2 separate regions of the Homo sapiens genome follow, and region 1 is linked to region 2. Evidence: fine-mapped expression QTL. A gene starts in region 2. The other region holds a variant in brackets. All regions are shown on one strand. Distances are between the middles of the regions. Region 1 holds the start of CLPS (colipase). Region 2 holds the start of CLPSL2 (colipase like 2).

Evidence for each region.
Region 1: its variant is fine-mapped to the expression of CLPSL2 in pancreas (GTEx, PIP above 0.99).

Annotation. Positions count from the first base shown.
Region 1 is chr6:35,791,389-35,801,479 of GRCh38, reverse strand. It overlaps CLPS (colipase), which reads left to right and starts at 4,157. Exons shown (of 3, transcript NM_001832.4): 1 at 4,157-4,275; 2 at 5,627-5,749; 3 at 6,203-6,498. The coding sequence starts at 4,192. The coding sequence ends at 6,334. It also overlaps a transcript of CLPSL1 not described here. The variant A/TAA (reference allele first, on the strand shown) is at 3,803.
Region 2 is chr6:35,772,150-35,782,585 of GRCh38, reverse strand. CLPSL2 (colipase like 2) reads right to left here and starts at 5,988. Exons shown (of 3, transcript NM_207409.4): 1 at 5,884-5,988; 2 at 5,005-5,127; 3 at 3,034-3,231. The coding sequence starts at 5,967. The coding sequence ends at 3,136. CLPSL1 (colipase like 1) reads right to left here and starts at 1,567. Exons shown (of 3, transcript NM_001010886.5): 1 at 1,377-1,567. The coding sequence starts at 1,475. It also overlaps the pseudogene CMPK1P1. RefSeq lists an enhancer at 1-456 and a silencer at 5,878-6,007.

The DNA.
Region 1 (10,091 bases), 19 kb before region 2:
CCTCAGTTAATTTTTCTATTTTTAGTAGAGACGGGGTTTCACCAGGTTGGCCAGGAAGGTCTCAAACACCTGACCTCAAGAGTTATCAAATTCTTGATAACCTCTTTCACAACCCTAGGCAGTTGACAGCTAAATAGCCTTAAATTTGCATATTAAAGGAAACAGTTCAGATGAAAGTCAAACAGCAAAATTTACATTATAAGGTGCGCCAAGAAAAGTCTGGTGTTCTAGAGGGAAATTAAAACAGATTTAATTGCCAATTAAACATAAAAGTATGGAAATTATAAAGGCCTTTTAAACACACACACACACACACACACCTTGTAGCTTTTACTTCAGAACTTTTAGCCATGAAATAAATACAAATTCACCTGGCTTGCAAAAAGAACTTGTTGGATCTAAACAGTGGTTTTTCTCTTAATAGAAAAATAACAGCAGATTGCCGGGCGCGGTGGCTCACGCCTGTAATCCCAGCACTGTGGGAGGCCAAAGTGGGCGGATCACGAGGTCAGGAGTTCCAGACCAGACTGGCCAACATGGTGAAACCCCATCTCTACTAAAAATACAAAAAATTAGCTGGGTGTGGTGGCAGGCACCTATAATCCCAGCTACTCAGGAGGCTGAGGCAGGAGAATGACTTGAACCCGGGAGGCAGAAGTTGCAGTGAGATGAGATTGTGCCATTGCACTCCAGGCTGGGCAACAGAGTGAGACTCCATCGAAAGGAAGGGAGGGAGGAAGGAAGGAAGGAAGGAGGGAAGGAAGGAAGGAAGGAAGATTTAGAGCAGGCAGAAAAGAAAAATAGAGAAAAAGATGACTTAGGAATTCTATAGTTTGCAGGTCAACCTTAGGGCTCTTTTTCCTTAATGTAAATGTGCACAAAGACCACGTTATTTCCATTTTACATAAACTTTGTCAGGTAGAGGTGCCATAAAAGCTACGGAGTGCTCAAAAGGGGGTCATTTTCTTTGTTTTCTCCTCATTCTGAAACCACCTTTGCAAAATTATGACTGAGACAGTGAAAGAGATCTAACTTAAGTGACTCCATCTTGTTTCTAACCTCCAAGCTGTCCTTGTTCATTCCTAGGCGTAAGCTGAACTAACTTTGGGAGAAACTTAGTTTATAGTTTAAACAAAGACAGTAACAGCCCTTTCCCAAAGCTGACTTCATTCTTGCCTGGGGACTAGATTGCCTTTGTAGGACTAACATTAGCCACAAGATTAGAAATTATGGTTTAGGAGTCACGCAGCTGGAGGCTACAAGATCCTGATCCTCCCTAAACTACTCCTAAGATCAGTGCTTGAGATATTTTGCTGACCCTGCACTTGATGGATCAGCTGGCCCCACCCAGATCAATAAACTGGCTCATCTGATCTTGTGGCCCTCACCCAGTAATTGACTGGGTGCACGAAGACAGCTCTGAGTCCCTATGATTTCATCTCTGACCAATCATCACCCCTGGCTCACTGGCTTCCCCCCACCCACCAAGTTATCTTCAAAAACTCTGCTCCCTGCTGGGCATGGTAGCTCATGCCTGTAATCCCAGCACTTTGGGAGACTGAGGCAGGTGGATCACTTGAGGTCAGGAGTTCAAGACCAGCCTGACCAACATGGTGAAACCCCATATCTACTAAAAATACAAAATTAGCCGAGCATGGTGGCACATGCCTGTAATCCCAGCTACTCGAGAGGCCGAGGCAGGAGAATCACTTGAACCCAGGAGGCGGAGGTTGCAGTGAGCCAAGATCATGCCATTGCACTCCAACCTGGGCAACAAGAGCGAAACTCTGTCTCAACAGCAACAACAACTCTAAAACTCTAGTCTCCTGCACCTGCACAGCCGGCTCTGCATGAAATACTCTTTCTCCACTGCAATTCCCCTGTCTTGATGAATCGGCTCTATCTAGGTAGTGGGCAAGGTGAACCCCTTCAGTGGTTACATCCTGAGGGCTGTGTCACAGGCCATGGTTGCTCATATTTGGCTCAGAATAAATCTATTCAAATATTGTACAGAGTTTGACTCTTTTCATTGACAGGTACTTAATTTTTGCTTTCCTTTTAGAAGCACATACAGTGTCAAAGTTCTCTTTGCTACACTTCATTTGTAATGGAAAAAACTCCAGCCTTTTTTCTTTGCAAGCTTGGCTGAGACCAACTAGGGACAGGGCTGATGGTTTTCACAGCTCCCTTCATGGAGAGAAATCACTCCTCTGATTCCTTTGCCAGTCTCCATCTTGACTTGTGAGAAGGGAATAGTGATTCCCTTCTCTGTGGCTCACCTCACAGAGGTCCTGGGGGTGGGGAGCAGGTAGAGAAAAGAGAAGGAAGGATCAGAGTGAACTCATAGGAAAAAGTGCTTTCAAACATTGAGTTCTATAAAAGAGAGGGGGGATAGTGTTCTTTCATCAATGGTATTTCTGCATCGCTGGAACCAAATTGGTTTTTCTCATTTTGAGAGTCTCCTGGTTGTTCCTCCAGCTATTTCTCTACATTCCACACCCCAGGGATGTAAAGGTGAGAGGAAGGGGGTCATATTACATGGCTGGGCACCCACCATGTGCCAGGCACTTCCGAAGGTGTTCCACGTGCATTGTCTTAATCATGACCTCAGGAAGTAGGAGGCGTTATCCCCCTAAGATAAATAAGGAAAGTGAGGTTCAGGGAGCTTCACTTTCAATAATGTGTCTGAGGCCACGTAGCTCCAGTAAATGCTGAATTTTGAAGCCAGCTTGGTCTGGATCAAAGCTGTGCTTGAGGCTGGGCACAGTGGCTCACACCTGTAATCCCAACACTTTAGGAGGCCGAGGTGGGAAGATTGCTTGAGCCCACGAGTTTTAGACCTGGGAGGCTTAGGGGGAAGATTGCTTGATCTCAGGAGGTGGAGGCTGCAGTGAGCCAAGATGGCACAACTGCACTTCGGCCTAGGTGACAGAGTGAGACCTTGTCTCAAAAAATTAAATTAAATTAAATTAAAAGCTGTGCTTGAGGCCTGGGCCTCTCAGTGGAGCTGTCTTCTACCTCCTGGGATGGAGAGGGGAAGGGCAGGGGCCTCTGGCTGCCATGACTAGTCCTTCAGGAAAAGCTGCTCTGTTCCCATGCCTGAGCAAACTCAGGCAGCTGTGCCCTTCCCAGCTTCCTGAGGCCCCTGCTCCATCTGAGGCTCATGAGACCTCTTCATTCTCAGCCAGGACTAGCGACTGCTCACGCGCGCACGTGGCCTTGGGTAGGGGGCAGCGTGAGTGGAAACCTTAACTAAAGGGGTGAGTATCTGATGCTGGAATTGCAGATAGTAAGTGAGGTAGAAAGGAAAGGGGAGAGAGGCATTTAGGAAGGGCCTCCTAAGGGCCCTTGAGTCAGGCCTGCAGGCAGCCCCTGGTGTGAGGGCAGGGGGAGGGTGCCAAAGTGAAAGCACACACACCCTGGCCTGCTGGGGGTTGCAGAACTGTCAGCCCCAGGGATCTGGGCATGGCCTGGAATCCCCCGAGGAGACTGAAGGAAGGTTGAGGGGTGGGAGGCTAGGATCCTCGTCCCTGGAGTCTGACACTGCTAGACACCTGGGCTTGGGTGGGCCAAAGGCAAGGCCTGACTATAGTGAGGCAGAGAGGCCCCAAGTACACAGAATGTAAGCAGGCACTCACACCATAGGTGCCTCTCTTGCCTTGGATTCGTCCAGGCACTGCCCAGGAGCTCAAGACACAAGGGCAGCCACCCTTACCCACTGCTTATGTGGCATATGGGAATATACAATATAAATATATTCTTATAATTGTATATAATAATGTTTATATATATGTAACACATA[A/TAA]ATGTGTATTAATTCAACCCTCACAACTCTTTAAATTATCCTTAGTTGACAGATAAGATGAAAGGCAGAATAGTTGGAACAGATAGTAAGTTTGCCTCACTAATAACTTGTACACAGTCCATACTCTTAACCACGATGCAACACAATTATCACCAACACACACACACACACACACACACACACACACACACACACGAAAAAGGCCACCAGGTACTCACCCAGTTTCCTTATCAGGAACCGCCCCACAGCAGATTGGCCACAGCTGTGCCTCTGCCCACGGCCAGCCCTGTGGGATGCAGGTGGATCTCGTGAGGTCAGGGCCCCTTTTATAGCCCCATCACCACAGCTGGCTCTGTCTCCCGCCACCCACACCAGCTGTCCCACTCACCATGGAGAAGATCCTGATCCTCCTGCTTGTCGCCCTCTCTGTGGCCTATGCAGCTCCTGGCCCCCGGGGGATCATTATCAACCTGGTAAGAGGGTCTTCAGGGGAGGCGCCTCCTGAGTCCCCAGATGAAGACTTCCTAAGCTTGGACCTTGACCTCTGATGTCTCCACCTGGACTGGCAGGGGCTGGGAGGAGTGGCATCTTGCATCCCTCTGTTTACTTCCATGTCCTGTCCTATGCCTCTTCCCAGAGGCCACAGGAAAGGCTGATCAGCCCCTCTCCAGCTCCAACTGGAGCATGCTCAGAGCAGCAGCTCAACCTGGCTATGAGGGACCTTTTTTTTCTTTTTTTTCTTTTTGAAACGGAGTCTTGCTCTGTCACCAGGCTGGAGTGTAGTGGCACAATCTCGGCTCACTGCAATCTCTGCTTCCCGGGTTCAAATGATTCTCCTGCCTCAGCCTCCCAAGAAGCTGGGATTACAGGTGCCTGCCATAACGCTCAGCTATTTTTTGTATTTTTAGTAGAAATAGGGTTTCACCATGTTGCCCAGGCTAGTCTCAAACTCCTGACCTCGTGATCCGCCCACCTCGGCCTCCCAAAGTGCTGGGATTACAGGCATGAGCCACCTCACCTGGCCCTACGAGGGAGCTTTGTAAAAATCCAGAGCCCTGGGCTTCCATCCTGAGAAAATGCTTTGCGCCAATCATTCCAGCTTCTGACTTATGGAGATGCCTCGGAGATGTTTACTCATTCTGTTCTCATAATAACCACTGAGGGAGGTGTTTTCAGAGTCAGCCCTGTCTTCAGACAGAGAGAGGGTGAGCAACCTGCCTGAGGTCACATAGCTGGAAAGTGGTTCAGCTGGGGCCCCACCACTGCCCCACACCACCTCTCCACCATGGGTCTTGGCTGGGAAAGCCCTTCCAGAACGTCCATGCGGTTGAAAGGTTCTGAACTCTCTTAACTTGGGGCCATGGCTGGACTTGGAGGTCCAGGACCCTTGGAGATTATAGATCAGATCTGTTGGGGGAGGAAGGAGTCTTGCAGGGAGATGCAATCTTCACCGCCTCCTTAAAGAGGTGTGGGACCCAGAGTGGTTTGGAGAACTTGTCTAGGGGCCTTGTGTGCACATTCCAAATGGGAACACTGAGGCTTGGGAGGCAGTGACTTGCCCAGAGTCACACAGGAGGTTGGTAGCACAGCCGGTACTAGAACCCAGGGGTCCTGACCCTCTGTGCAAGTCTGCTTCTCTGTCACCGCATGCCCACTTCTCACGTGGGTGGGGGGCACAGAGGCCACCAGACCCAGGGGATGGACTCCTTCACACACATCCCTACCAGGGGAGACACTGTTAGTGGTAGTGTGTGGTGGGTACAGGTCTGAATGGAGAAGGGACCTGAGGGAGTGGGGCCTGGGCTGACTGGCTGCTCCTGGCAGGAGAACGGTGAGCTCTGCATGAATAGTGCCCAGTGTAAGAGCAATTGCTGCCAGCATTCAAGTGCGCTGGGCCTGGCCCGCTGCACATCCATGGCCAGCGAGAACAGCGAGTGCTCTGTCAAGGTGGGTGCCTGAGGACTTGGCGTGGGTGGGGGAGAATGGGGAGTAGGGCCCTGAACACTTGTGAGTGGGATCAGGGAGGGGGGTCAGCCTGGACACTGAATGTTGAGGAGACGAGAGGGAGGTCGACAGGTGTCAAAGCACTTTCCCATCCCATCATCTCTCTTGACCCTCCCGAGTGACCAGTGAGATGGGTGGGGGTGGGGATTTGTTATCCCCATTTCATGGCTGGGTAAATAGAGGCTCCCCAGAGAGATCAAGCTAGTAAGAGCAAATGAGCCAGAGCAGAGGTCAGAGCTGGGGTCTCCAGGGCCCACGGCACCCCTGGGGAGGCAGGTGGGAGAGGCACTCCCCGAAAACACAGGCTGGCCTACTGGTTCTCTAGGTCAGGCAGGGGACAAGTGATGTCCAAAGTATCTCCCCATAGCCTTGACTCCATTGGCTGTGTCTCTGCAGACGCTCTATGGGATTTACTACAAGTGTCCCTGTGAGCGTGGCCTGACCTGTGAGGGAGACAAGACCATCGTGGGCTCCATCACCAACACCAACTTTGGCATCTGCCATGACGCTGGACGCTCCAAGCAGTGAGACTGCCCACCCACTCCCACACCTAGCCCAGAATGCTGTAGGCCACTAGGCGCAGGGGCATCTCTCCCCTGCTCCAGCGCATCTCCCGGGCTGGCCACCTCCTTGACCAGCATATCTGTTTTCTGATTGCGCTCTTCACAATTAAAGGCCTCCTGCAAACCTTTCCCAGTCTCCTGCATATTCTTTCTGACTCAGCATCTTCTCTGAAGTTGCATCAGGCCTTTGGTCCACCAGGGCAGGCTTCAGGCAGGTCAGAAGAACAAGGGATGGGTCTGGGGCTGAAGAAGTTGTGGCCAAACAGATTGGAGACTGAAGACAAAGCTGTGAAGGAGACCCAGCCAGCCTAGGAAACCCTCCATTTCTGGGGAGAAGTCACACCTACCTGGGATGCCCTCCTTGTCCCTCCGGTTCTCAAAGAGACAAGCGGGCACATGTGCATGCGCGCGCACATACACACACACACACACACACACACACACACACACTTGTGGGTAAGGAGTTTTAATGGCCCATGTTCGTCACCCTGCATCAGAGGCATCAGAATCCTGGGCTCTCACCTCTTTTCTGGACACAATTCTCAAATATGACAGCTAGCTGACACAACTCATGTGTTAAGGGGTCAGACCACTCTCAATTGCTATGAGCTTACTCTCTGCCAGCAAATGCTCACAAGGATCCCAGGAGGGAGAATTTCTCATCTCCACTTTATAGATAGAGACCAAGTTTCAGAGAGGAGCTTGCCCAATGTCACATAATCAGAAAATGTTGGCACTCTACCATCTAACTCCACTGCCCTGCTTCTATGATTCCTTTTTTTTTTTTTTTCTGAAACAGAGTCTCTCTCTGTTGCCCAGACTGGAGTGCAGCGGAGTGATCTCTTGGCTCACTGCAACCTCCACCTCCCAGGTTCAAGCGATTCTCCTGCCCCAGCCTCCCCTAGTAGCTGGGATTACAGGCGCCTACCACCACGCCCGGCTAATTTTTGTGTTTTTAGTAGAGACGGGGTTTCATCGTGTTGGCCAGGCTGGTCTCAAACTCCTGACCCCAGGTGATCCACCACCTCAGCCTCCCAAAGTGCTGGGATTACAGGTATGAGCCACCGTGCCCGGCCTTATGATTCCTTTTTCTTTCCCAATTATTCGCATTAAGAAAAATGGGTGGAAACTGCAAGGAATTTAATTTTGCCTTAATATAAAAATTGTATATCCCCTGGAGCCATCAAACATGAGTTACCTTAGGCAGTACTGAGGTGCCCATCATCCAGGTACGCAGGTGGAAGCTCACTGACCCCTCGGTGGAGATGCTAGAGAGGAGATTCCCACAGAGAGTGAGGGACAGTGAACTGAATGAAACTTCGATGTCGTCCCAGCCCCAGGATCTTGCAGTTCTGTGATCAATGAATCCTCCTGTAACCACAGGCTTATGAGTTAGGATTGCATTCAACTGTGAGTAGCAGAAAAACCCAAGTAATTATGGCTGAAGCAAATAGGAACGTATATTTCTCATGAATCCAAAGCAAAGACACAGGAAGTGCTGGCATTCTTTTGGTGGCTGGTAGCTCTTGACCTTCTCTTCAAGGTTGCCACATGCCTTAGCAGCAGCTCATGACTTCACGTTCTCACCGTATTCGAAGGCAGGAAGCATGGAGTAGCTGGCAGCTGGGAAGGCGGGAGAAGGAGCAGAGAGTTTCTTCTTGCATACCCTTTTTTTTTTTTTTTTTGAGACAGAGTTTTGCTCTTGTTGCCCAAGCCAGAGTGCAGTGGCACGATCTCGGCTCCCTGCAACTTCTGCCTCCTGGGTTCATGCGATTCTCCTGCTTCAGCCTCCCAAGTAGCTGGGACTACAGGCGCCTGCCACCACGCCTGGCTGATTTTTTGCATTTTTAGTAGAGACAGGGTTTCACCATGTTGGCCAGGCTGATCTTGAATTCCTTACCTCAGGTGATCCACCTGCCTCGGCCTCCCAAAGTGCTGGGATTACAGGCATGAACCATGGCACCTGGACCATACCCTCTTCTTATCTTTCCTCAAATCCTCAAGGCCGACTTCTCTTCATATCTCAGTGGCTAGAACTAGGTTATCTGACTACTTCTAGCTGCAAGGGACGCTGGGAAAGCAAAGGGAATAAGATCCTTCTCCTGGGGCCAGGTTCATTGATGCCCAAACAATATTGGGTTTCAGTTGGCAGGGAAGGGGGCAATGGCTATTAGGAAACCAGGTAATGGTGTCTGCCACATATGAATTATGTGCTCAACAAGAGGAGCTTTCAATACCTTAACCCAGGAGGGGTCTCAGGCCCTGAGCAGGGCTGAGTCACGCTTCTTGGTGCCACATTCGGTCCTGGAGATCTGCATTCATGTCCCCTTCATGTGTTCACTGAATGACCACAGTGTGCCTGGCACCGTGTTTTGGACTGTGGGGGGCATAAGGAAAATGTCCCTGGTCTTCAAAAGTGAGTAGGGAGTTGGGCTTTGGGCTCTGCAGAAGCAAGTGACCAAGACCCCAACCATTATGTAGCTTCCATTTTATTTCCAACGGCCAGTGCTCCTGTAGACTCTCAATTTCTGCTGCTTTTCAGCATCACACGCCTACACAGCAGAGGCACAGTCTAACCACAGCTCAAGGAACCAGATGGTCCCCACTTACAATGGTTTGACTGACAATTTTTCAACTTTATGATGGTGCAAAAGCAATATGCATTCAGTAGAACATCAATAAATTACATGAGATATATTCGACACTTTATTCTAAAATAGGCTTTGTGTTATTTTTCCCAGCTAATGTAAGCATTCTGATTGAGCACATTTAAGGTAGGCTAAGCTAAGCTATGATATTCAGTAGGTTAGGTGTATTAAATACTTTTTTTTTTTTTTGAGACAGGGTCTCACTCTGTGACCCAGGCTGGAATGCAGTGGCATGATCATGGCTCACTACAGCCTTGACATCCTGGGCTCAAGTGATCCTCCCACCTCAGTTCCCCAAGTGCTAGAACTATAGGCGTGTGCCACCATGCCTGGCTAATTTATTTATTTATTTATTTATTTATTTTTGTGGCGGGGGGAAGATGGAGTCTGTCTCTGTTGCCCAGAGTGGAGTGCAATAGTGCGATCTCGGCTCACTGCAGCCTCTGCCTCCCAGGTTCAAGCAATTCTCCTGAATCAGCCTCCCGAGTAGCTGGGACTACAGGCACATGCCACCACGTCCAGCTAATTTATTTATTTATTTATTTATTTGTATTTTTAGTAGAGATGGGGTTTCACCATGTTGCCCAGGCTGGTTGCGAACTCCTGAGCTCAGGCAATCTGCCCACCTAGGCCTCCGAAAGTGCTAGGATTATAGGTGTGAGCCTCCATGCCCGGAGTTAATTTTTATATTTTTAGTGGAGATGGGGTTTCACCATGATGCCCACACTGGTCTTAAACTCCTAGGCTCAAGCAATCCGCCCACCTCAACCTCCTAAAGTGCTGGGATTACAGGCACAAGCCACCACACCTGCCCATTAAATGTATTTTCTTTTTCTTTTTCTTTTTTTTTTTTTGGAGACAGAGTCTAACTCTGTCACCCAGGCCGGAATGCAATGGCACGATCTCGGCTCGCTGCAACCTCCGCCTCCCGGGTTCAAGTGATTCTCCTGCCTCAGCCTCCCGAGTAGCTGGGATTACAGGCGTGCCCTCCACGCCCAGCTAATTTTTGTATTTTTAGTAGAGACGGGGTTTCACCATGTTGGTCAGGCTGGTCTCGAACTCCTGACCTTGTGA
Region 2 (10,436 bases):
CTCCCCCTCCTGCCTCAGGCTGAAGACTTCCTGGACACCAGCAGAGCAGTCCCCATCACCTGGTTGTACTTTGTTCACAACACTTATGACTCTCTGAAATCATCTTATTTATATGTTTAAAAATAATTTATTTCCCCCGCTAGCAACCTCAGCTCTGGGACATGGATCTTCTGCTCTCACGTTCACTGCTATATTTCTTAGCCCCCTTGGACTAAAGTCCTTACACATTGCAGGTGCTGAATGCATAACTGTTGAATAAATGAGAATATTGTAACTGTGTTCCATTTATCTCTCTGAGCTCATCTCCCATGATTTCCACTCTCTCTTACTCCTCTTTGCTATTCCTTGAATATGCCAGCACATTTCCGCCCCCAGACCTTTGCCCTGGCTGTTCCCTCCACCTTGAATGCTCTTCTCCCAGAGACCCCCCTGCTTTGCCGGTTAGGAAGGACTTCCCTCCCTTTAGGTCTTTGCTAAAATTTCACATTCTTAGTAAACTCTTCCCTGAGCACCCCATTTAAAACTGCAAACCCTGGCCAGGTGCGGTGGCTTACGCCTGTAATCCTAGCACTTTGGGAGGCCAAGGCGGGTGGATTGCTTGAGGTCAGGAGTTCAAGACCAGCCTGACCAATACGGTGAAACCCTGTCTCTACTAAAAATACAGAAAAAAAAATTAGCTGGGCGTGGCAGTGGGTGCCTGTAATCTCAGCTACTCGGGAGGCTGAGGCAGGGGAATCGCTTGAACTCAGGAGGCTAAGTTTGCAGTGAGCCGAGATTGCCCCACTGCACTCCAGCCTGGGTGACAAAGCAAGACTCTGTCCCAAAAAAAAGAAAAAGAAAAAGAAAAAAAAAAAAAACACCTGCAAACCCTTCTCACACCACCACTCCCACAGCTCGATTCTTATTTTCCCTTTCCTTGCTTATCACCTGAGATAGATGCTATTATTAATAGCATCTATTGTAATGTTTTACTTCTTTGCCTCACACACTAGAGTGACAGCTCTACAAGGGCAAGGATTTTTATCTTTCTTGCTCACAGCCCTATCACTAAATGTAGAAAAATAATTTACATATAGTAGGTGCTCAATAAAAATGTGTTGCATGAGTGAATATCTGTCTCCCTTACCACATGTGCGCATGGGCAGGGGGGCTCTCTCACATTCACCTCTGTGGCAGCAGCACCTGGCACTGCCCTGGCACAGCTTCCAGGACCAGGTTGTTCTCTCTTTCCTCCGAGACATCTTCCACCCAACACTCCCTGCTGCCCCCACTTCTGGCCTTCTCCCACACTAGCCCCCATGCCCGCTCACCTCCCCAAATAGTACAGGCCTTAGGACAGTGGAGGGGGAGGTGACTGCACTCTCCAGCTTTCTTACCAAAAGGTTGTATTTTGTTGGAGAAAGTGAGCCCCTGGTGAGGAGGAAGAGAAAGAAGAAGAGAAGGAACAGCAGCAGCAGCCATTGGGGTAGCATCATGGCCCACAGGTCGTGGTGGCTTTTCTAGGGTCCAGCGAAATATCCTGCACGCCGACCATGTGGGTGTCCTCCCAGCTGTGGGAACACCATGTAAAACCAGCACCCAACCCCGTCAGAATTTTCCCATCCTGCACAATACTCAGGCTAGGCCAATCAGCAAATTCCACCACAATAATTAGTTCAGGCAGACTAAGCCAATCCAATCAGAACCGATCTTAGGATGTTTGCTGAAAATTGTGGAACAGAGATGTTTTCTTTCTCTGAAAGGCACAGTATTGATGTACATGGTGGATTTGTGGTTAAGAGCCTGGCCTCTGGGGCAGGATTGTCTGGGTTCAAGTCTCAGTTCCAACCCTTACTTTAGGAGCCTCGATACCCTGTTTGTAAAATAGGGATAATTATAACACCTACTATAGCCCTGTTGTGACAAAAAGATGAGTCAATACAGTTAAGAAAGCACTTTGGGCCAGGCGCAGTGGCTCATGCTTGTAATCCCAGCACTTTGGGAGGCTGAGGCAGGAGGATCACTTGAGCCCAGGAGTTTGAGACCAGCCAGGGCAATACAGTGAGGCCCTGTCTCTATTAAAAAAAAAAAAAGAAAAAGAAAAAGAAAAAAAATTGGCCGGGCATGGTGTCACACACCTGTAGTCCCAGTTACTTGGGAGGCTGACGTGGGAGGATCTTTTGAGCCCAGGGGGTTGAGGCTGCAGTACGCTGCGATCGAGCCACTGCACTCCAGCCTGGGTGCTGTCTTAAATTTTTTAATTAAATGAAAAAGAAAGCACTTTGCACAGTGTCTGGCACATAGGAAGTGCTCAATAAATCCTACCTGTTATTAGGTGACACCTGGAATGTTTGTGACTACTGGGAAGGAATTCAGCCTGAGAGCTGCTGGCTCTGGCCCTACCTAAGGGTTGCCTGACCTCTGGACTTTCATTTCCCATCACCAGTAAATCCCCTCCTCACCTAGACCAATTTGAGTTGGTTTTTAAGATACTTGCAGCAGAAAGAGGCCTCACTGCTACCCCAATGATATGACCTAGGGCAAGTCATGTCGCTTCTCTGGGCCTCAGTTTCTTTGTCCATGCAGTGAACCGACAATACCTGAGAGAGCGGAGGCATCCATGCACCAGGTCCCTTTCCCACCACAGGCATTTCTGCATTTATACTTTGCACATTCTCACCAACTCTCTAATGATCTCTACCCTTTTGTGCCCCACAACCCGCCCCGCAAAACATTCAGATACCTCCACCTAGTCTCTCCCTACCACACACCCCTCCATAGGCACCCCAACATACACTCTCCAGGTACATTCCTCAATCCCGTCTCTCCCACACAGCCCTCCAACCAGAGAATCAGCCCTTTCCCAGACCCAGCCCCTGCTCCACCACACCCTCCCTGTGCCATTCCCTTCCTGCAGTTCTACCCTGACCTCCGGACAGGGCCAAATCCCATTAGAAGCTCATTCATGCCTCCAGTCTCCCCTTTTGCCTGCCCCCTGGACTGGTACAATCTCCACCAGGTCCCCTCGCCCAGAAAGTACAGACAGAGGCCAAGGACAGGAAGTGACTTTAATGTCTCAGGAGCTGGATTTGGAGCAAGTTGGTGGCAACCAGGGCCTATGGCCCCAAGGGAGCAGTGACCAGCCTGCATCTTCCTCTAAATCATATGGCACCGGCGGGAACACATCAAGTCCTTGGATATGCACGTCAAGCCCATCCGGCAAGGGCAGATGATGTTGGTAGCTCCCTTGGTCTGCAGGGAGTGGGTATGAGAATCGGGAGTCACCAGGATGCAGGAAGGATGGGGACTTAAACTTCTTGGGGACCAGAACCAAGAGTACCAGGCCTGGAGTAAGACAGACCTGGGCTGTCTCTACAGCTTATAACTGCGTGACCTTCAGCAAGTCAATGAACCTCTCCAGCTCGGTTTCCTCATCTGTCAAATGGGGACAGTAATAGTAACCCCCCTCATAGGGTTGTTGTGAGGACTAAATGAGATAGAGCAGATCAAGTGGTGATAATAAAAAGACCCTTTAGGCCATGCGCGGTGGCTCACCCCTGTAATCCCAGCGCTTTGGAAGGCCGAGGCGGGTGGATCACCTGAGGTCAGGAGTTTGAGACTAGCCTGGCCAACATGGTCATGGACTAATAATATAAAAATTAGCACATGCCTGTAATCCCAGCTACTCCAGAGGCTGAGGCAGAGGAATTGCTTGAACCCAGGAGGTGGAGGTTGCAGTGGGCCAAGATCACGCCATTGCACTCCAGCCTGGGCAACAAGAGCAAAACTCTGTCTCAAAAAATAAAAAAAATAAAAACCCTCTAGCCACTTCAGCTATAGGGTCAGGCCATGGTAGGGGCCCTGCTGCTTCCTTAGGGCATTGGCAACTCCCCACACAGGGACATAGAGGCTGGGTCCATCCATCCTAGAAAGGTTTGGGCCCAGGGCCAGGTGGGCAGGAACAGGGCGTACTGAGCATTCTGCTCCCTGCATTCCTAAAAGCGAGTGACAACCATGCTGGACTGCACACTCTCCTTGCCAGGACCACATAATCTTCCCAACAGCCTGGTGGGGTAGGTACTTTAGCCTCTCCTTGTAGATGAGGAAACTAAGGCTCAGAGAGCCATGATGACCTGCTTGAAGTCACAAAGATAGGGTGTGGAAAAGTCAGGATTTAAACTCAGGTCCAACTGCAAAGCTGTGGTCCTGCCACTGCAGTGCCATGCTCCTCTCAAGAAATCATGTCACTGTGGCAGGGAGATGGGGACTAGTAAGGGGAAGGTCATTTCCTACTTACCCTGCCTCAGTGGTGTGAGAGAAGAGATATTCATTCATTCAACAAGCATTTATTGGCCGGGCACGGTGGCTCATGCCTATAATCCCAGCACCTTGGGAGGCCGAGCCAGGTGGATCACCTGAGGTCAGGAGTTCAAGACCGGCTTGGCCAACATGGCAAAACCCCATCTCTACCAAAGATACGAAAATTAGCCAGGCATAGCGGTGCACCCCTGTAATCCCAGCTACTCGGGAGGCTGAGGCCCAAGAATCGCTTGAACCCAGGAGGCAGAGGTTGCAGTGAGCCGAGATCATGCCATTGCACTCTAGCCTGGGTGACAGAGCGAGACTCCATCTCGAAACAAACAAACAAACAACAATAAGCATTTATTGAGCACCTACTATGTGCAGATACTAAGCTGGGGGTAGGTGCTTCATAGATGAATATGATGCGATCCCTGCCCTTGAAGAGTTCCAACCACTGGGAGAGGCAGAGAAAAGACATGGCCAGTTAGGGAGATACATGGTCTGCTGAGGGTCTGACCCCAGGGTACAGGAGCTCCAAGGAGGGAAGCCTTCTCAGAGGAGGTGGCTGGAGTTGTTTTGCACCATGAGTAGGAGTTTGCCAAGTGGAGAAGAAGAAGGGCACTCCAGACAGAGGTGAAAAAACAGGTGGGGCCAGGTGTTTTTTTTTTAACCTCCCTGCCCGCTTCTCTACTTGCCAGAAGTTGCCCCATACTAGGGCCTCACCTGGGGCAAGCAGATCATGGTTATTCTGGCCCTGGGGGCACAGAAGGCTCCACCGGAGTCCAAGTCCATGAGGCAGCAGCCACTGTAGCACTCAGAGTGGTGGAAGCACCTGTCTGTGATTTTCTGTGGGGACAGGCAGAATGTCTGCCAGGCTGGGAGCAATCCCTGAGTCGTGTGGGCGGGTAGGGGAGGGTTCCCACCATTGCCAAAGAGCCCAGGGATCCAGGAGAAGTCATGAGGTTGTCACCCCTTGGGGGGCTGGTTCCCCCCCCAGCCCCACCCCGGCCCCTCAGCAGGACCCAGGGCAGCAGAGAGGAGGAGAGGGGGATTAGCACTTTTCCCTCGGCCTCTCCTTTCCTGGACCCCCCTCACCTCCATGAGTCCCATGGGGTGTGTACTCTTAAGTCCCATTTTGCGGGGCAGGGTTGGGGGATGAGAATGAAGGGGCTGCGGGCTCGAAAAAGAGGGAGAGAAAGAGGAGAAAAGGGGAGAGCCCTCGTGCCTGGAAGAATCACTAGACAGTGAGAGGAGGTGGAAGAAGAGGAGGAGAAACCAGAGCATGCAGGGTGGGTTTGCCTGTGAGCAGTTTGGGGAGGGAAGCGAGCCCAGGACTGAGGCCATCGGAAGGGGCACGGGCGGGGGAGGTGGAGGGAGCGAGGGTGCTGGTCATAGGCCAATTTCTCTCCCCTCTGAGGCCACCAGGGGAAAGTGAAGCGGCTTTTGAAGTCCGTCTGAGGATGCCCCAGGCTACCCGCCTGGGTGTGGTTCCGGACCCACCTCTCCCTTTCAGGCTGCCCGGCGCCTTCGGGCTCCAGTGCCCCGGCGGCGGGGCCACCCTCTCCTGCGGTCGCGGCCGGCTGGGCGCGCTCCCCGGCTCACCTTTTTATATTGCGGAAGCGCGCTCCAGAGGGGCAGCACCGCCCCCGACAGGACCCCCGCCACGAGCGCCAGGGCTGCGGCCATGGGCCTGGGCGGCAGAGCAGCGGCGGGGTTCCGAGGGGCCGCGGGATAAAACCTCTTCCCCGGCCACGTGACCCGGCGCCCCAGGCCACCCCGGCGGAGGAGGGACGTGGAGGGCGAGGACGCCTGCGGAAGGGAAGGAGGGAGGAAAGGCGCTCAGGCTCGCACGGGCGGGATTCCAGACTGTAGGGGCCCTGGGAGCCTCCATACGTGTTACTTCCAAGTAGAAGCTTGAAACTGTAAGATAAAACTCTATTTTTATTGTAAGATAAAACTCTATTTTATTGTATTTATTTATTTTACAGACGGAGTCTCGCACTGTCGCCCAGTGCAGTGGCGTGATCTCGGCTCACTGCCATCTCCGCCTCCCAGGTTCAAGTGATCCTCCTGCCTCAGCCTCCCGAGTAGCTGGGACTACAGGTGTGCGCCACCACGCCGGGATAATTTTAAAAATTTCTGTAGAGACGGGGGTCTCCCCATGTCGCCCAGGCTGGTCTCTAACTCCTGGCCTCAAGTGATGGTCCTGCTTCAGCCTCCCAAAGTGCTGGGATTACAGGTGTGAGCCACCGCACCTGGCCTCAAAACTTTATTTTTATAAACGGCACAAAACATATATGCTGAAATAAAAAGAGCTTCCTTCCTGATGTTGATTCTCTGTCTGCCCTTGCAGCCCCAGATTCTCCCCTTACCTTCGGGATAATCCAGCCCCACCCTCTGGGCTGCTCACACCCGCTGCAGGCCCCATTCTCCTCTTCTGTAAGAACCAGGAGGTGGGACAAGATGGTCTCTAAGTCTTAAATCTCTTGCAGTCTTAATCATTCTATTAATTGTCTAAGGATTTGTCTGTGAATTGTGTGAAAGTCAAGATGTGGGGGCAAAATGGAGAAGTGGGAAGAGAAGAAAACTCAGAATAGGGAGGAGGGTTAAGGGAGAGCTAGAGCTGCACAGAGCAATCCTGGAACCGGGGGAGGCAGGCCTTCCTCAGGACTTCCCTATGGATGAAGCTTCCACCTCACCCCACCTGCCTGCTTCTGCTTTTTTTTAATTTCTATTTTTTTTTAATTTTGTATTGTTAATATTTGTTATAGAGACAGGTTGTCCTTATGTTGTCCAGGCTGGTCTTGAACTCATGGGCTCAAGAGATTCTCCTGCCTCGGCCTCCCAAAGTGGTGGGATTACAGACGTGAGCCACCACTCCCAGCCTGCTTCTGCTTTTGAAGTTTCGCTTAAGAAATGAACCGAGGAATCCTGTCTTGGTGGGGAATAACAGCCAAGAATAACAGCCCCCACCGCACTCAGAGGGCCTTGTATCCATTATTTCCGTGAGCCCTCCCTGTATTAACACTAGCTGTCACAGAGTAATTAACACTGGCTGTAACAACAGAACTCCTGGAATTTCGTGGCTTGGCACAATAATGCTTTATGTACAGTCTGATTTGGGGCAAGATACCCTTCTTCCATCCTGTAGCCATCTATAAGACTGGCCTCTGGCTGGGCATGGTGGCTCATGCATGTATTCACAGCACTTCGGGAGGCCAAGGAGAGAGGATCAGTTGTTTTGGGGGTTTTTTTGGTTTTTTTTTTTTTTTTTTTTTTTTTTTTTTTTGAGACAGAGTCTCACGCTATTGCCCAGGCTGAAGTGCAATGGCACAATCTCGGCTCACTGCAACCTCCGCAAAGTGCTGGGATTACCAGTGGGAGTCACCATGCCCGGCTGAGAGGATCTCGTGAGCTCAGGAGTTCAAGGCCAGCCCTGGGCAATATAGTGAGACCTCATTGCTACAAAAAAAATTTAAGAAATTAGCCAGACATGGTGGCACATGCATGTAGTCCTGGCTACTCGGGAGGCTGAAGCTGCAGTGAGTTATGATCGTGCCACTGCACTCCAGCATGGGCAACAGAGTGAGACCCTGTCTCAAAAAAAAAAAAAAAAACTAGCATCCAAGGTCTCCATGGAAGACCTGCCTTCTCCACTCACAAACCACCTGCTGGAACTAGTCACATGATCCCAACCCTCTAACCTTCTGCAAGGGAGGCTGGGAAATTCAAAGGAGTCTTGGAATATTTAGCATCTACTATCATTTCTGCTGCGTAACTCTTAGCCCTGTTTTACAGACTAGGAACCTGAAGGCTCAAGATAAAGTTACTTGCCCAAGGAACAGGATTAAATGGCAGAGTCAGATATAAATCCAGGGCATTCTAGCTCCTGGGTCCAAGTTCTTACCACTGATCTACACTGCTGCGGGCGGCCAGAGGGCTTTGGCCCTAGTAAGGGGGTTCCCATCATTACCTAGTAAGGGGGCTCCAGCAGTCGCGGTCTGAGCTCTCTTCATATGTGTGTTCTGCTACCTTGGCTGACTAGCGACCCATCCACGCAGACCATTTGTGAACTGGAGAGGAGGCCTGGGGATGGATACTTCCTTGTACTGCTTCACCGGCTTCCTTTGCCCATACCCCCATGACCGTTAGATACTTGAGAAGTATTGTTGACTGCTTAGGAAAGTGGCAAATTTGAAGGCAAGGGGCCAGCAACTGCGTGTCAGGGTTAGCAGCCCCTGGGGAACCCACTGAAGGCCCTGAGGGGTGGTGAAGCCCCTGGAATTCTGTACAAAATATTATGGGCATGGCTTTTTTTTTTCTTAAGCCAGAGATCTTCCGGTTTCCTCAAAAACAACTAGTTCAGAACCTTTATTTTCAGTTGAGGAAACCGAGGCCCAGAGAAGGCAGGGACTTCTCCCAGTAACTCAGCTGGTGAGTAGCAGAGCCAGGCCTAGCTCTGCTCCTGACTCCAAGTCCTGTACCATGGCCTGCCAGCACCGGTCACAGGCACATGTCCAGGGTACCTCTGCATTGCGGGGGAGTAGGAACAAGATCACCAGGGTCTCCAGCGCCGGGAATCCCTGAGCTGCCTGACCTGTGAGCATGGCCACAGCTCTGCCCAGGGCCCAAAACTGGCCACCTCAGACTTCAGTGAGCAGAAGGGGGTCAGTTCAGGACAGGGGAGCACCTTGCTGGTGGACTTCTTACCCCCTATTTCCTGCCTCTTCACCTTCCCCTCCTCTGACAGTCTCTAACGTCTCACTTCTTTTCTTCTGCATCTTTCTGGTGGTGCAAGTGGTGGTTTCCATGACAATGTTCTCACTGGTCTGCAGCAAAATGAAAACAATAAGGATAATGTAGTAGTGTTTTTGTTAAAGGTAAATATATTCAATTTATTATTATTAAAAAAAAATTTGTTTTTGAGGTGTCACCCAGGCTGTAGTGCAGTAGCGCGATCTGGGCTCACTGCAGCCTTCGCCTCCTGGGTTCAAGCAAGTCTCCTGCCTCAGCCCCCCTCCAAGTAGCTGAGAATACAGGCGCGCGCCACCACGCCCAGCTAATTCTTGCATTTTTAGTAGAGGTAGCGTCTCAACATATTGCCCAGGCAGGGAAATGTATTTAATTTAAAAAGTAATTATTTATTCTGAAATTATGTCTTTTCTACTTCTTTGGTGTTAAAATGTGCTTTTATGAAATAATGGCGATCAGGGGTTCAAGACCAACCTGGCAACAAAGTGAGACCTCTGTCTCTACAAAAAATAAAAGAATTAGCTGGGCATGGTGGCATCTGCCTATGGTCCCAAATACATGGGAGGCTGAGGTGAGAGGATCTCGAGCCTGGGAGGTTGAGGCTGCAGTGAGCCATGCCACTGCACTCCAATCTGGGTGACAGAGATAGACTGTCTCAAAAAAGTAATAATAATTAAATAAAATGGTGATGGTATTTGGAGGTAAAAAATAAAATAAAATATTTAAAAATATATTTTAAAAAAGCAATAATAGCCACGATACAGTAGTAGTTTTGTTTCATTGTTCATGTTCTTTTTTGGCGCATATATATATATATATATATATATATACTTTTTTTTTTTTTTTGAGACCAAGTCTTGCGCTGTCACCCAGGCTGGAGTGCAGAGGTGCCATCTTGGCTCACTGCAACCTCTGCCTCCCAGGTTCAAGCAATTCTCCTGCCTCAGCTTCCCAAGTAGCTGGGATTACAGGCGCCCGCCACCACGCCTGGCTAATTTTTTTGTATTTTTTTTAGTAGAGACAGGGTTTCACCATGTTGGCCAGGCTGGTCTTGAACCCCTGATCTTAGGTGATCCACCGGCCTCCCAAAGTGCTGGGATTACAGGCTTGAGCCACCGAAACTGGCTTTTGGCCAATATATTAAATATATGTGCACAAATTCTGTTAGTCCTCAGAATTTTTTGGAAGTCTTATCAGTCTTTGAAATCCAAAATAAAATTCTGGGGAAAACTGACCTCATGAAAATTGCGCATTACTCAAGTCCTTCCTGAAGGAACTCTAAAAGTAATCTGGGGAGAGTGAGGAACGAGTGGGTGCCCTAAGAGTTTGATATGCAAAGATAGATCAGCAAAGCCTTCCTAGAGAAGAGGACCAGAGTGGGAAGTGTTTGGAGGTGAGGAGGT